Regions from separate parts of the Homo sapiens genome. Here region 1 is linked to region 2. The links come from fine-mapping of genetic effects on gene expression. A gene starts in region 2. The other region holds a variant in brackets. All regions are shown on one strand. Distances are between the middles of the regions. Region 1 overlaps GLIPR2 (GLI pathogenesis related 2). Region 2 holds the start of GLIPR2 (GLI pathogenesis related 2).

What was found. PIP is the estimated chance that this variant, and not a neighbour inherited with it, causes the effect. A credible set is the group of variants that fine-mapping cannot tell apart.
Region 1: its variant is the best candidate, but not a certain one, in a credible set for the expression of GLIPR2 in whole blood (INTERVAL, PIP 0.74).

Annotation. Positions count from the first base shown.
Region 1 is chr9:36,155,401-36,158,304 of GRCh38, forward strand. All of the region lies in intron 4 of GLIPR2 (GLI pathogenesis related 2), which reads left to right. Among named protein-coding and RNA genes, the nearest start is that of CCIN, 13 kb to the right of the region's middle. The variant C/A (reference allele first, on the strand shown) is at 1,842.
Region 2 is chr9:36,135,451-36,138,354 of GRCh38, forward strand. GLIPR2 (GLI pathogenesis related 2) reads left to right here and starts at 1,283. Exons shown (of 5, transcript NM_022343.4): 1 at 1,283-1,341. The coding sequence starts at 1,329. RefSeq lists silencers at 935-1,504, 1,535-1,584.

The sequences.
Region 1 (2,904 bases), 20 kb after region 2:
CCTGGCCAATATGGTGAATCCTGTCTTTACCAAAAATACAAAAATTAGCCGGATGTGGTGGCGTGCATCTGTAATCCCAGCTACTCAGGAGGCTGAGGCAGGAGAATCACTTGAACCCAGGAGGCGGAGGTTGCAGTGACATGAGATCGTGCCACTGCACTCCAGGCTGGGCAACAGAGTGAGACTGTCTCAAAAAAAAAAAGTTTTAAATGGAGTTTAACTACAGGAGAAAAAATAGAATTTAATCTACAAACATTTATTTCAGTCCTTACCATACACAGGATGCAATGGGAAGGACCGACTTTGTCTCTTCCCTAAAGAACTAGAAGAGTGTGTACACCAGTCTCTTCCTCTCTCTCCTACTTTCTTTTTTTAATTTTTTAGTAAAATAGGCTGGGTGTGGTGGCTTATTCCTGTAACTCCAGTACTTTGGGAGGCCAAGGCAAGAGGATCCCTTCATCCAGGAGCTCCAGACCAGCCTGGACAACATGGCAAGACCCCATCTCTACAAAAACAATTAAAAACTAGGCTGGGCACGGCAGCTCACACCTGTAATCCCAGCACTTTGGGAGGCTGAGGTGGGCGGATCACCTGAGGTTGGGAGTTCGAGACCAGCCTGGCCAACATGGTGAAACCTTATCTCTACTAAAAATACAAAAATTAGCCAGGCATGGTGGCGCACGCCTGTAATCCCAGCTACTTGGGAGGCTGAGGCACAACAATCGCTTGAATCTGGGAGGCGAAGGTTTCAGTAAGCCAAGATTGCACCACTGCACTCCAGCCTGGGTGACAGAGCAAGACTCCATCTCAAAAAATTAAAAAATTAAAAAATTAAAAAACTAGCTGGGTGTAGTGGCACGTGCCTGTGGTCCTGGTTACAGGAGGCTGACGTGGGAGGATTGCTTGAGTCAAGGAGTTGGAGGTTGCAGTGAACCATGATTGCACCACGGCACTCCAGCCTGGACAACAGAGTGAAGCCATGTCTAAAAAAAAAAAAAAAAAAAAAAAAAAAGAAATTGTAGTAAAGCACATATAACTGAAAATTTACCATTTTAACCATTTTAGGTATACAGTTCAGTGGGATTAAACACATTTACACTGTTATGCAATCATCGCCACCATCCATCTCTAGAATTCTTTTCATCTTCACAGATTAAAACTCAGTACCCCTTAGACCAGGGGACCCCAACTCCTGGGCAGTGGACCTGTATGGGCCCATGGCCTGTTAAGAACTGGGCCGCACAGCAGGAGGTGAGCCTGGGTGAGTAAGATTACTGCCTGAGCTCCGCCTCCTGTCAGATCAGCAGTGGCGTTAGATTCTCATAGGAGCATGAACCCTATTATGAATTCCTCACGCAAGGGATCTAGGTTGCATGCTCCTTATGAAAATCTAATGCCTGATGATCTGAGGTGGAACAGTTTCATCCTGAAACCATCTCCACCCCACCCCAACCATTGTTCTACTTTTGGTTTTAACTATTCTAGCTACCTCATATAAATGGAATCATACAATATTTGCCCATTTGTGTCTGGCTTATTTCACTTAGCATCATGTTTTCAAGGTTTACCCTTATTAGAGCACGTGTCAGAATTCCTTTTTATTTTAATTTATTTTATTTTATTATATTTTATTTGAGACGGAGTCTCACACTGTTGCCCGGGCTGGAGTGCAATGGCGTGATCTTGGCTCACTGTAACCTCTGCCTCCCGAGTTCAAGCGATTCTCCTGCCTCAGCCTCCTGAGTAGCTGGGATTATAGGCACCCGCCATCATGCCCAGCTAATTTTTTTTTTTTTTTTTTGTATTTTTAGTAGAGATGGGGTTTCACTATGTTGGCCAGG[C/A]TGGTCTCGAACTCCTGACCTCTTGATCTGCCCACCTTGGCCTCTCAAAGTGCTGAGAATACAGGCATGATCCACCACACCCAGTCTCTTTTTTATTTTTATTTTTTTATTTTTTATTTTTTTGAGATGGAGTCTCATTCTGTCGCCCAGGCTGGAGTGCAGTGGTGTAGTCTTGGCTCACTGCAACCTCTGCCTCCCAGGTTCAAGCGACTCTCCTGCCTCAGCCTCCCAAGTAGCTGGGGTTACAGGCACCCACCACCATGACCAGCTAATTTTTATATTTTTAGTAGAGACGGGGTTTCACCACATTGGCCCGGCTAGTCTCAAACTCCTGACCCCAGGTGATCCACCCGCCTTAGCTTCCCAAAGTGCTAGGATTACAGGCATGAGCCACTACGCCCGGCCTCAGAATTTCTTTTTAAAGCTGAATAATATCTGTTAAACACACACACACACACACACACACACACACATATATATATACACATATATACATATATATCTCCCACATTTTGCTTATCCTTTCACTTGTTGATGGACACTTGGGCTGTGTGTCTTTGTGGGTTTTTTTTTTGTTTTTTGTTTTTTCGAGATGGAGTCTCACTCTGTTACCCAGGCTGGAGTGCAATGGCACAGTCTCGGCTCATTGCAACCTCTGCCTCCCAGGTTCAAGCAATTCTCTTTCCTCAGCCTCCCCAGTAGCTAGGATTACAGGCGTGTGCCACCACACCTGGCTAATTTTTCTATTTTTAGTAGAGACGGGGTTTCATCACATTGGCCAGGGTGGTCTTGAACTCCTGACCTCAAGTGATCCGCCCACCTCAACCTCCCAAAGTGCTGGGATTACAGGCGTGAGCCACTGCGCCCGACCGGGCTATGTGACTTTGGGCCAATCTTTCAACCTCTCTGCTAGGAGCATGGGCGTATAAATATCTGAATCCCTGCTTTCAGTACTTTTGGGTATATACCTAGAAGTGGAATTGCTGAGTCATTGCAATTCTGTTTAATTTTTTGAGGAACTGCCATACTGTCTTCCAGAGCAGCTGTGCCATTTTACATTCCC
Region 2 (2,904 bases):
GTGACTGTAACACAATGGTAAAAATTTGCATATATAAACAGATGTAAACATAGAAACATAGTAAAAATATGGTATCATAATCTCTTGGGACTACCACAGTATATGTGGTCTGGCATTGACTGAAATGTCATTACTCATGACGGTACTAAAATACAGTAGGTGTATTTGCCTGACATGGGGAAAGGAATAGAGAGCACAGTGCCCAGCCATCGCCCTGCGGGACATTCGTAAGCCGTTGGTATTACAAATTCTAGCCTTATCATCAGTGGGTCAGCTCACTTCAGTGCCCATTCATTGAAAAGCCTTAAAATTCGCTTCCTTCATTTGGGGTGTACTGAGCCCCTTCCCCAGAAAGGAGCGCTTGCGGGAAGTCTGGCACAGGTGACTAGGGCTGTGCGGTCAAGTAAGTGCACTTCTCCCACGGGGCAGGGGCCATGGGTGGGACCACATCTCCCCAGTACCTGGTGTGTGCTGCTCCCAGGGTCAGGGCACCTGGCAGTTGGAAAGACCGGCCGACCCCGAGGGATGGGCAGCACTGGAATGGTGGCTCCAGGGCCAGCACTCCCGGAGGAGGGACCGCCTGAGGAAAGGCAGGGAGGTGGGAAATCCCAGAACATGTTTGGGGAATGACAAGACATCTAGTTTGACTGGAGTATGGGGAAAAGGTGGGGCGTTGGGGAGACAGGTCTGGGGCCAGACTGCAGGGGTGGGAATTGGCTTGGTCTGGGAGGCAATGAGGGGCGAGTGGACGGGTCAGAGGCGGCGGCGCTTCCACCCCGACTGGCATTAGAGGGCGTGTCCTAGGAGAGGAGCATCCCCCTCCCCGGACCAGCCGCCCTCCGGAGCCCAGAGTCACCGGAGATGGGGGCACACCCCGGGGCTGCGTGTGTCGTGTCAGGCCGCGGCAGGGAGAGGCCGTCCCCTGGTGGCGCCGGCCGGAACGCCCCTCGTGCCGCGACCGCGCGCCCCTCTGTCCTCGCCGCGCGTCGGCGCAGAGCAGCCACCCGGGGCCCAGCAGGCGCGGGCTTCCCCACGCGCCCCGGGAAGGGACAGCTCGGTGTGGGGTCCGGGAGGCTTGAGCCCCGCGGCCGCATCCGGGGAGCCCTCGGCAGTCGCGGAGCTGCTTCCCAGGGGTGAGCTCTCCGGGAGGCCCACGGGGTGGCCCCGGGCGCCTCCGCCCTCAGCTGTCGCTCCTTATAAGGCGGGGGCCGGGCGGCGCCGGAGGAGGGGCCGCGGCATCAGCCCGGTCCTGGGCTCTGGGGCGGCGCTGGGCCGGGCGAGCGCAGTGCAGCGCAGCCGCGGGGAGCGAGGAGCGCGCGGAGCCGGCCATGGGCAAGTCAGGTGAGCCCGCGGGCTCGCCCGCTGCGGAATGGTTCGGAACCCCGCGCTCCCGGACCTCGCCGTCTCCCTCGTCCGCCGCAAGCCAGGTCCTGGGGAGTGCGGGAGCCCGGGGTGCGGGTGGAGGGCGCGCGGGCGGAGCGCCCCGGCGCGGTTTCCGGGGAACCCGGGGGGAAGGCGAGCCCGAGGGAGGCCCCCGCCGGAGAGCCGGGGATCGCGCCAAGTTGGGCTTCCCGACCCTGAGGGGCTGCGCGCCGCGGCCCGCCAAGGCGTGGCTTCTGCTTTGTTTCAGGAGGCCAGACTTAGAGTTGGAAAAGTCACCAAAGTGTGACAACAGCTCTCGCTGCGAAGCAGTTTGCCCCGCTCGGCTGTCCCGAGGACAGCCCTGAGCATCCCCCTCATCCATTTGTTGTTCCTTCTCTCCTGAGCGCCCGCGCCGTGCCGGGCTCCCCCTGTGCTAGGCTCGGTCTGGCTCCCTTTCTCCTGGGGCACCCCATCCTCTCTACTGTGGCTGTCGGGATGAACTTTCTGCAGCGCAGCTCTCCTCCTGTCGCTCCCTAACACCTTCCTCACCATTGTCCTCAGAGTGAAAGGACACACTCCAGTCCTGCCTTCGGGCCCCTGGGAGTGGGTCCCTAGCCCTTACCTCCGCCCTACACTAGAGCTGTCCAGAAGCTGGTGCACAGGTCCCTTCCCCTAGGTTTCCTTGCCGGGCCTTCACCACCCCAACTCTCAGCCTGAAAATCCCATCCCTCTAGGCTCAGCTCCTGGGCTGGAGCCCATCTGTGATTCCCCCCGGGAGGGAGCGCCCAACCTGGTGTTTTCCTCGCTGCAGCCCTTCCTGTAGTGGGCCGGGGACAAGAGTTCAGCCATAGACCTGTTTCCCACCGGGTCCTCACCCCTGGCTGCCAGGGGCCGTGTTTATCTCAGCATTGCTTCTGCCTCACAGGAGGCTCTTAGAGAACAGCTGTTGAACAGGATTCAGAAGTCCTGCTTCATCCGGATTGTCCACTTCAGATGAGTAAGGCTAGGTCCCTTCTAGGATCTGTCCTCCAAGATCTGGACTCAGGAGATGCCAGCGCTGGGCGCAAGTGGCTTTCCCTGGCCTTGGTCCTAACCAGCCTTCCTAGGCTGTAGAGGCAGGTCTGGCTTTCAGCCCTGGCCCAGCCAATCACTGGCTGTGTGATACTGAGCAAGCCTCCTTCCCTCTGTTCCTCCCTGTCTGTACAATGAGGGTGGCCGTATGAGCCCTGGGGTTCTTCACAGTATGGAAAGGTGATATAATGGGTTGCCATTTAGTTAACAGGATGACAGATGGTGATGGAGCAAAAGTATGGCAGATGAGAGCGAGTCTTTCGAGATATCTGCTTGGGAAATCAACTCCTTTCTCTGTAGAAATTTGTGGAGAAAATCCACAAATTCCCTTAGGCTACTTTTTTTTTTTCTTTCTTTCTGAGACGTGGTCTCCTTCTGTTGCCCAGGCTGGAGTGCAGTGGTGCGATCTCGGCTCACTGCAACCTCCGCCTCCCAGGTTCAAGTCATTCTCCTGCCTCAGCCTCCTGAGTA